Regions from separate parts of the Homo sapiens genome. Here region 2 is linked to region 1. A link means that fine-mapping ties the variant in region 1 to the expression of a gene that starts in the linked region. Tissue or cell type: testis. Region 1 holds a variant in brackets; the other region holds the start of a gene. All regions are shown on one strand. Distances are from middle to middle.

Region 1 (5,151 bases):
GTTGCTTCATACCCTTCCTTTCCTGTCACCAGTGTCTGTGAGCTGGATCTTACCACCTTGCTTTTTCTGTTTTGTGTCTCTGTACCCTACCTGCTCCCTCTTTCCAGTCAGTGTTTGGGTGTGTTCAAGTCTTTCCCATTTAGAACCTCCCGTTCCCCTCCTCCTTTGCCCTCCCTTATCTGCTGCTGTCTTTGGCTCCTTCTGCATCACGCGTAAACTTCAGAAAACCTTGTCTAAGTTTCTTACATTCACTTCTGAAATCCCATTGTTTCCTAAACATATCACCATGCAGCTTTTTTCCCGATCACATCACTGAAACTGGCCCTGCCTTGCCAGTTGCTAAATCCAAGAGACTCTGTCAGTCCTTGTCTTACTTGACCTTTCTTTTGCTTTGACACTAACAACTTGCCCATTCTTGAAATCTTCTCATTTTGTTCTTCTGGCACTATATTCTTTTTGTTTCTCTCTCTTCATGTTTTCTCTAGTTATTCCTGTTCAGTCTTCTCTACGATTGTGATTCCACTGCCTGTTCCATAAAATGTTGGTGTTCACCAGGATTTTGTCCTTAGTTCTCTTAGGCTCTAACTCTGTTCAGGCCCACACATTTAGTGCTACCTTTGCTAGTACTGTTTACCTCTGAGATAATTTCCTTAACCATCTAAACTAAGCTGTGTATGTGTTAATATTTGTATTCTCTTCCCTGCCCCCGAGTACTCTGAGTATTGAACAAAAATCCTCATCCATTGAGCTCTAGCAGGCATGCTTAAGTGTGTCCTCTCTGCCGTCAGTAGTGGCCCCTCTTCCTTTCATCCTGATGCTGTATTTTGTAACGTGTAAAGTTTCACATTCTGTGATTATATGTTCTGGAAAGTACCTATAATGACTGATAAAATATGTATAAGTGATAATGTGAGTCCTGTTGCAAAGAAAGGAAGATTGTCATGCTGGATTATTACAGAATGAAACTTACTATGTGAGATGTCTTCAAGCAACTGTTGGAGGAACAGAGGGGAAAGATCAAGAAGCAGAAAGTTCCTCTTAGGTAACCCTTTGACTTTATGAAGAGCATCATGAGAAGCACAGTATCCTGGGAGGGCTGACAACAACACATGAAGGGTATCTGGGAAACAATGATGGCAGGTGGCTTTTCAAGAGTCCACGGCCTGGAAGCCGGAAGCATCTATAGGGGGCCCCATAGCACCGAAGGTCTAAGTTTCCTGCTGACGAATGTGTGTTACTTTTCCTTGGTAACTGTTCCATGGTTTAAATTATATTGAAAGACTGAGCCTCAGATTCCTATCTTCAACCCAGATGTTTCAGGAGGGACTACACTGTGTTAAAATTCAAAATCTGGATTCAGACTGTATGGGTTCAAACCACAGTCTACCTGGAGAGCTGTGTGGCATTGAGTGAGTCTCCCTAACTTTTCTATACTTCAGTTCCTCTGTTTATAAAGTGAAGATAGTAATAGTACCAGCTTCATAGGGTGGTAGTGATGATTGAAGGAATCTATAAAAAATACACAGACTAGTGCTTTAACATGTGTGGTCCACATAATGTTTTAGCTGTTGTTCACTACTCGGATGCCTCTCATGTATCTCAAAGGTAACATATTCAAAACTGAAGCCATCTTCCCCTCCAAATCTGCTCTTTTTAAAAAATGTTTCTGAGATCAGTGATTTTCAAGATTTTTTTTTCTTTTAGAGATGAGGTCACACTATGTTGCTTAGGCTGGTTTCAAACTCCTGAGCTCTAGTGATCCTCCTGCCTCAGCCTCCCAAAGTGCTAGGATTATAGGTGTGAGCCACCATACCTGGTCTATGAATTTTTTTAAAAAACCATGTACTCGTGTGTAATTTTAGGTTGAGAATTGAAATTTTGTAAGTTTTAGTAGATCCAGATCTTTGGTTTATCATAAATACTGACATTGTAAAATCAAATTGTCATATTCCTTTTAAATGTATCCTATGAATTTATATTTCATAGCAATTTTGTACTCTTCATCTACCTTTATAAAAATTTATGAACAAGCTCTTTTTTAAAAATCAGAAACATTTATTTATTCCTTTTATGTCGTTAAACTTGTATTCCTATTCTACTTTCTCCCTAAAATGTTATTATATTTTTATTAATAAAAAACATATATCCATAATATACATATAAATTGGAATTTTAAAAGTTTATTTCCTAAGATGTTAAGGCTCTAATTGTTGTTGAGCCCTAAAAGTAGTTGTTATTACCATGGTTGTCACTATACAATTAATTAAAACAGCAAAATACTATGCATTTTAATAATTATTAAACATATTTTCTA[T/C]GGAAATTGACAGACAGGGGGCAGGACTAGATTGCAGTTCCCACTCGGACGGATCGTGCAGTGTGTAGAGACTTGCATTGTGAAATTTTGCTCCAGAACTACTGCAGAAATATACCAAGAAAGCTGAGAGAATCCACAGACCCTTTGAAGGAAGCAGATTGCTCCTGCAGGAACCCAGAGACACTGCAAATACTGTGCTGGTATCCATGGCTGAGAGACATGAAGATGGTTCACATCACAGGACTCTGTGCAGACAACCCCTAGTACCAGCCTGGAGTCTGGTAGCCCTGCTGGGTGGCTAGATCCAGAAGGAAATAACAGTCACTGCATCTCAGCTCTCAGGAAGCCACATTCCTAGGAAAAGGGGGAGAGTGCTACATCACGGGAACACCCCATGGGACAAAAGAATCTGAACAGCAGCCTTAAGTTCCAGATCTTCCATCTAACATAGTTTACTCAAAGGAGAAGGAACCAGAAAAACAATTCTGGTAATATGATAAAAGAATGTTCTTCAACACCACCCAAAAAATCATACTCTCTCATCAGCAGTGGATCTAAACCGAGAAAAAGTCCCTGATTGACCTGAAAAAGCATTTAGAAGATTGATTATTAAACCAATTAAGGAGGCACCAGAGAAAGGTGAAGTCCAATTTAAGGAAATCAAAAAAAATGATACAAGGAACGAGGGGAGGAATCTTCAGTGAAATAGATAGCATAAATAAAAAACAATCACAACTTCAGAAAATAAAGGACACACTTAGAGAAATGCAAAATGTTCTTGAAATTCTCAGCAGTAAGACTCGAACAAGCAGAATAAAGAACTTCAGATCTCGAAGATAAGGTTATCAAATTAACCCAGTCCAACAAAGACTAAGAAAAAAGCATTAAAAAAATGAACAAAACCTCCAAGAAATGTGAGATTACATTAAGTGACCAAATCTAAGAATAATTGGCATTCCTGAGGAGGAAGAGGAATCTAAAAGTTTGGAAAACATATTTGGGGGAATAATCTAGTACAGCTTCCCCAGCCTTGCTAAAGACCTAAACATCCAAATAGAAGGAGCTCAAAGAACACCTGGCAAATTGCAAAAAGATCATTACCTAGGCACATTGTCATCAGGTTAGCTAAAGTTAAGATGAGGGAAAGAATCTTAGTAGCTGTGAGGCAAAAGCATTAGGTAATCTATAAAGGAAAACCTATCAGATTAACAGCAGATTTCTCAGCAGAAACCCTACAAGGTAGAAGGGATTGGGTCCCTATCTGCAGCCTCCTTAAACAAAACAATTATCAGCCAAGAATTTTGTCTCCAGCAAAACTAAGCTTCATAAATGAAGAAAAGATAGTCTTTTTCAGGTAAACAAATGCTGAGAGAATTTGCCAGTCCTAAGACAGCACTATAAGAACTGCTAAAAGGAGCTCCAAATCTTGAAACAAATCCTGAAAACACATCAGTAACAGAACTTCCTTAAAGCATAAGTCTCACAGGACCTATAAAACAAAAATATAATTAAGAAAAAACAAGGTATACAGGCAACAAATAGCACAATGAATGGAATAGTACCTCATATCTAAATACTAATGTTGAATGTAAATAGCCTAAATGCTCCACTTAAAAGATACAGAATTGCAGAATGGATAAGAATTCACCAACCAGGTATCTGCTGCCTTCAAGAGACTCACCTAACATATAAGGACTCACATAAACTTGAGATAAAGGGATGGAAAAAGATATTCCATGCAAATAGACACCAAAAACAAGCAGGCATATGTCAGTCAAAACAAACTTTAAGAGTAGTTAAAAAAGACAAAGTAGGACATTATATAATGATAAAAGCCCTTGTGCAACAGGAAAATATCACAGTCCCAAATATATATGCACTTAACACGGGAGTTCCCAAATTTGTAAAACAATTACTACTAGACTTAAGTAATGAGATAGAGAGCAACACAGTAATAGTGGGGGACTTCAATACTGCACTGACAGCACTAGACAGGTCATCAAGATAGGAAGTCAGCAAAGAAACAATGGATTTAAGCTATACTCCAGAACAAATGGACTTAACAGATATTTACATAATATTCCTTAATAGAGATGGGGTTTCACCATGTTGGCCAGGCTGGTCTCAAACTCCTGAACTCAGGTGATCTACCTGCCTTGGTGCTGGGATTACAGGCGGGAGCCACCACGCCTGGCCATTTACAGAACATTCTACCCAACAACTTCAGAATATACATTTTATTCATCAGTGCATGGAACTTTCTCCAAAATAGACCATATGATAGGCCACAAAACAAGTCTGAATAAATTTAAGAAAACTGAAATTATATCAAGTACTCTCTCAGACCATAGTGGAAAAAATTCTTCAAACTGAATGATAATAGTGACACAACTATCAAAACCTCTAGGATACAGCAAAGGCAGTGCTAAGAGGAAAGTTCATAGCCTTAAATGCCTGTATCAAAAAGTCTGAAAGAGCACAACTAGACAATCTATGGTCACACCTCAAGGTACTAGAGAAACAAGAACAAACCAAACCAAACCCAACAGAATGAAGGAAATAACCAAGGTCAGAGCAGAACTAAATGAAATTGAAACAAAAAGAAATGCAAAAGATAAATGAAACAAACAGCTGGTTCTTTGAAAAGATAAATAAAATTGATAGACCATTAGCAAGATTAACCAAGAAAAGAAGAGGGAAGATCCAAATAAGCTCAATTAGAAATGAAATGGGGGATATTACAACTGACACCACAGAAATACAAAAGATCATTCAAGGCTACTATGAACACATTTACGTGCATAAACTAGAAAACATGGAGGATATGGATAAATTCC
Region 2 (5,151 bases), 120 kb before region 1:
GCACTCTGATAGAGCGCGACTCTGTCTCAAAAAAAAAAAAAAAAAAAAGAAAGATGACAAAGTGCAGGAGGAAACCTTAGGGAGGGATGAATATGTGTACTAGCTTGATTATGGTGGTGGGTTCATGGGTGCACACTTATGTCAAAACTTATCAAATTGTACACTTAAAAATTATGCAGTGAACTGTATGTAAATTATATGCAATAAAGCTATCCTTAGAAACTCTGTGGAATCCTCTTGTCACTAGTAATCTCTAATTTTGTGTTAAATAGATTTTAAATGTTCTTTTCTCCAGTCTCCGATAAAGAAATGGAAAAGAAAATGCTTCACTCAGGAAAGAGTGTCATATGTATGGGACCTTATGGCTTTGTAACTTACCTTATGAGGAGCTGGGAACAGAATCCCTGCCCATCCAAAACCCTCAGCCTTCTCACTGCCACTGGAGGTAAAAAAACAAAAACAAACAACAGCAAAACCAAAAATCAGAAAGCAAAAAAACCAAATCAAAGGGCCAAAAAACAGGTGAGAGCAAAACTCAAAAAAACTGGGAACAGATGATTGCTTGAACCTTTTGTTTTTGCAGCCTCAAGTGTCTCGGTTGGATATGGAGGTAAAGAATGAAAATGTTAAGCCATCTTTCAATCACATTTGGTAACTCCTGTCAGGAATACTGTATTACAGAAAAGAAAAGCCTCTACAAGCAGAAATGCTAAAATCTAGCATAATAAGGTGTCACCTCATAAGGCAGGCAAGACTTTGACAATAAAACAAAGCTGGACACGAAATTTGATCAGAAATTCAAAACCTGAGTCAATTTCACAGAAAATTCAGAAGATAAAATAGTTTTATTCATAGCCTAGGTAAAGTTCAGAAATTTATATTGCACTTTGGCGGTTATGCTGATCCTGTGTTTGGATGGGGTCACAATAGCAGGGAAGGCCGAGGCTTCCTACAGAAGGTCCTTTGTGGCAAATCACTATGAGAGGAAACTCCATCAAAAGTCGCCAATTGTTCATTTCATTTCTACTGTGCTACGGAAGCCTGGTTTTGTTTTAAGGGCTAACGTCCTAGGTTTTAAGCAATTTTTTTTGAGCTTTGGCTACCCAGCTAACAAGCAGTAGAATAGTCAACTCAAAACTACGTCTGATGCCAAAGCTCTAACTCTAAAACTCAATATAGAGTTTTTTTTCTGTGACACCTCCCCTCGTGTCTCCCCTAACTGCGACTCGCATTAACTCGCTGCTGGTTCCCAGCTGGAGAGCACAGATTGCACCTGCTCCGAAGCCCAGCGGGGCTCAGTGTCGTCCGCAGCTCAACCTCGGCTGCCTGTGCACGGACATCGGGACCCACCAGGGGTCACTGCAGCTTCAGAGCTATTGTGCCCCTCAGTCCTGGACGCGGCCGACCGCGCGGAGGGCGTGGGATTGGGACCGCCGAACCGTGGGGTCCGAGCAGCACCGCGTCCTCTTCTCCCCACCCAGCCTCCAGGTCTCTCGGGGGAAGGACGCAGCGAGCGCTGGACTGCCCCGCGGCTTGGGCGCAGTGTGCGGCTTGGCAGCGTGGACTCGCCGGCACCTCGCCGCTGGGACCACGGTCTCTGCCCCGCCCTCCGCCCCCAGCTGATACCCCGCCCAGAAGGGGCTCCCCTGCCGCGGCCAGCGCTGGACTGGGGGGTCCGCTTCGTTCCAGGGCTTTTTGCAGACGCCTGGACCGGGCCCACATGCACCTGGGCTGCTCCCGCCCGGGGCGCCACCACTCGCGCGGCCAAGAGAACTTTCCCCGGAGCCTCTGCGGCCTGGCGCGCCCAGGGCGCACCCCCCGCTCGCCCGTCCGCCGCGTTCCCAGCTGGGGCGTCGCTCCTCCGCCCGCAGGTCCCCGCCTCCCCGCTTTGCTGAATGTCCTGAAGAAGCCGTATTCCGCCGCCGCGGCAGGCATTCCCGGAGGGAGAGCTTGAACTTGGCTACACACGGCCACCCGTAATGAGCTCGGGAGTCCCCGGACGGGAGCCACACCCCGCGACGAGCTGACCTCCCCTCGCTGGTCTGGGTAAGGAGCCTGCTGCCCTTTCCGCCTCTCTTCCGGCTCCTCGGCGCTTGCGGCTGGGGGACGGGGTAGCGGACGGAGCGACGACCTTCGCCTCTGCCCCTGCGCCCATGGTCGGGGCGTCGTGGGTGCTCCTCACACAAAAGAAAAGCCGAGCGCTTCATACTCGGCGGATCTGACCCGGGGCTGCGGGGCGGGGTCGCGGCTGGAAGTGCGCGCCCGCGGGGGACTCCGCAGGCCGATCGGACGCCAGGACGTCGGGGCCGCGCTCAAATCCGTGCGGCAGGAGGGAGGTGCAGCGCTTCCAGGGTTTTCCAAGGCCGGGGAGAGCCTCGAATTCCCATCACTCCTTTTTCTGGTCTCTTGCCCCCAGTGCCAGGAGACTTTTGTCGTCCCCAGGACTGCGGGAGGGGCCCCGCGCCCCCGCCTTCGGAGGAGCTCGAGCCGCAGGATGCGCGGGGACGCGCCACCGCCCTCCGCGCCCAGTTCCGCCGGCGCTTCCCCGGCGGCTCCCGGGCGCTGACTCTCCCGGGCTTTTCCGCCTTTCTCGCTCCCGCCCCGCCGGGCGGTTCGGCGGCCGGTCCCCGGACCCCGCCGGGAGCTGCTCGTCTCACCCTCGCCACGGCGCGGACAATAAATTAATGCATCGCGCTTGAGTGGAGGGGGCGGCTGGGCGCCTCGGTGGTAGCTTTCTCTCCTGGCTGGAGACGACCACAACCGACATGGGCTGTTTCTGCGCTGTTCCGGAAGAATTTTACTGCGAAGTTTTGCTCCTGGATGAATCCAAGTTAACCCTTACCACCCAGCAGCAGGGCATCAAGGTGGGTGCGGCCCGGAGCGCGTTCCGGGGGTTGGCGGCAGGGCGGGTGCGGGGGTCCATCGCTTTGAGGGCTGTCACCGGTGGGTCGAGGGCGGCGGCCGCGACTCTGCGCGGTGGGGAGGAGAGGCCGCTGTCCCCTGCGCGCAGGGAGAGGGTGGACGTACCAGGGTGAGTTAACTTTGAGTTCCTTCATAAAGCAAAGTTGAGTTTGACGTTTCTAAGTTTACTCAGCACACCGGCTCCCAGCAGCACCCCAAAACTCTTCCCCAAACCGGTTTTCTCCAAAAGCCTCTGGGTGCCCCGCAGCTCTCAAAGAGGGGCAGAATGGGTTATACCAGCTGCGTCCCACCAGTGTGGAAGGCATGGTTTCCCTCGACTTTGTTGAAGGCGTTTTCCTTGACAGTGTTATTAGGGAAGTGAACTAGTTCACTCGTTGAAACGCATTAATGGGTCATTGTGATTGTTTTGCGTGGGTTCGTAGTTGGGTAATGCTACGTTTGGACGGAAAATATTTTCCCTTTCTACAGCGACCTGGGTTTATCCTCACATTTAAGTAAACATCTCTCAAAGCGACCCAGTAATAACTTTGCTCCTGTTTGTGGGTCATTAAAATGCAATCACTACATTAACCTAGAGAGCCCAAACAAAAAGGCAGCAGAGCTCGCAGAGATCCTCTTCCTTACATTGGATGAGAAGGTACGTATGTTTGTAGTGACAACCTGACCGACGCGCCTGCGTGCTTGTTTTGCTTTTGCAACAGTGTTAACTACCTAAAGGAGATCTAAATCCGGAGCGTTTTGTTGTTTTGTTTATCTTTCTCTTTCAGTTTTAGATCGCTAAGGCATTTTAGATAAGGCAACAGCTGAGTCTGGTGAAGGGAAACCGCCCCCCCGCCCCCGCTCTGATAGAGCTGGCTTTCTGAGAAATCGAGTTCAGGCTGCCAAGTATCCTCTCTTAGTCGCTTCATCTCAGAAGTTAATCATAATGGGGTAGGCCCTGGGCATTTCCTTTTGTGAATCAGTTTTTACATAGTTTTATGCACACTAGGATAACTATTCCTGGCTAAAAGTTTCAGCGTTAATGTTGCCATTCTTAGTGTACAGAATTCCAGTTTCATAGGTGTAATTCTTTTGCGGGAGAAAGGAGCAAAAATAATCAGTTAAAGCTACAAGATTGTTAACCCTTTCCTTTAGGAGGTTGTTTTGAATATTGTTTCCCCAGTAATTATACTGAGCAAAATTCAGTTCGATTCTCATTCGGTATTTCCTTTCAAGACCAATAAAATAGACTCTTTTCGGGGAGGGTGTACATTTTGTATTTTTAACTTTTCTTTATGTTCCAAAATATTTCTCCTCTCACCCGCCCAATGAAATCAGGAAAATATTGTAACTTACAAGATGATGTAACATTCTTTGGTGTACTGTATGAATAAAATAGGCAAAAATCACAAAAACATCCTAAATTGTAGATAATATATAGATTCTTGTGTCGAGATAGAAACAATTAGAAAAAGGTAACTGATGATCAGATACTAAGACAGTAAAGAAATCTTTTTGAAGTGCAAAGTCTAAATTATCTGGAGTCTAAAGTCATCTGGAATGTGAGCTTCCTATTTAATCATCAAAGTCATGCCTATCAGCTGTAGAGCGTGTACATTATTCTGTCAAGAGAGCAGCCAGGACTTGGGATCAAATGGAATAATTTTGTCAAAGAAACATGAATCAAAAATCCTGATCCATAATTATTTTTTATAATCCAGTGGTGCTTATCTTGTTTTACAAATGGGCTGAAAATTGGTGAGTGATTCAAAGGCAACAGCAACTATGTAATACTGTTACTTTGGATATGGGCCATATAACTAAACAATAATTTAAGCAGGCTGTTGTTGGAAATAATCATTTAACAACAGGCTTGGCCTCTGTCCTTGTCACAAAAGCATGCCACAATTATTTTGATGGCCATGTGTGTAACACAGATGTTGTCTGCTAAAGCTAATCACATTATCTTCTATGCTACCTTAAAAGTGTATGTGTTAAACACCTACCCACCCTTGGCGTGTACTAAATTAAATATATTTGCATATTTATAAATGGTGTGTATAAAAAAACTTGCATGTAGAGGTATTCAAACATTGGATGAACATGTTTATGTTCTGTACATACTTGACATTTTAAAAAACTTTTTCCTAACCTTCCTGTATTATGGTGCATAGGTACAATTGATGTGTGTTGCATTAATTACTTAAAATTAACTCCTACTTTAGTTTGTAAATGAAAAAGTAAACAGTT

The links. PIP is the estimated chance that this variant, and not a neighbour inherited with it, causes the effect.
Region 2: it holds the start of EPB41L4A, and the variant in region 1 is fine-mapped to the expression of EPB41L4A in testis (GTEx, PIP above 0.99).

Annotation. Positions count from the first base shown.
Region 1 is chr5:112,298,892-112,304,042 of GRCh38, reverse strand. All of the region lies in intron 2 of EPB41L4A (erythrocyte membrane protein band 4.1 like 4A), which reads left to right. Among named protein-coding and RNA genes, the nearest start is that of EPB41L4A, 120 kb to the left of the region's middle. The variant T/C (reference allele first, on the strand shown) is at 2,315.
Region 2 is chr5:112,416,654-112,421,804 of GRCh38, reverse strand. It overlaps EPB41L4A (erythrocyte membrane protein band 4.1 like 4A), which reads left to right and starts at 2,528. Exons shown (of 23, transcript NM_022140.5): 1 at 2,528-2,864. The coding sequence starts at 2,766. EPB41L4A-DT (EPB41L4A divergent transcript) reads right to left here and starts at 2,222. Exons shown (of 1, transcript NR_027706.1): 1 at 827-2,222. RefSeq lists a silencer at 1,774-1,863.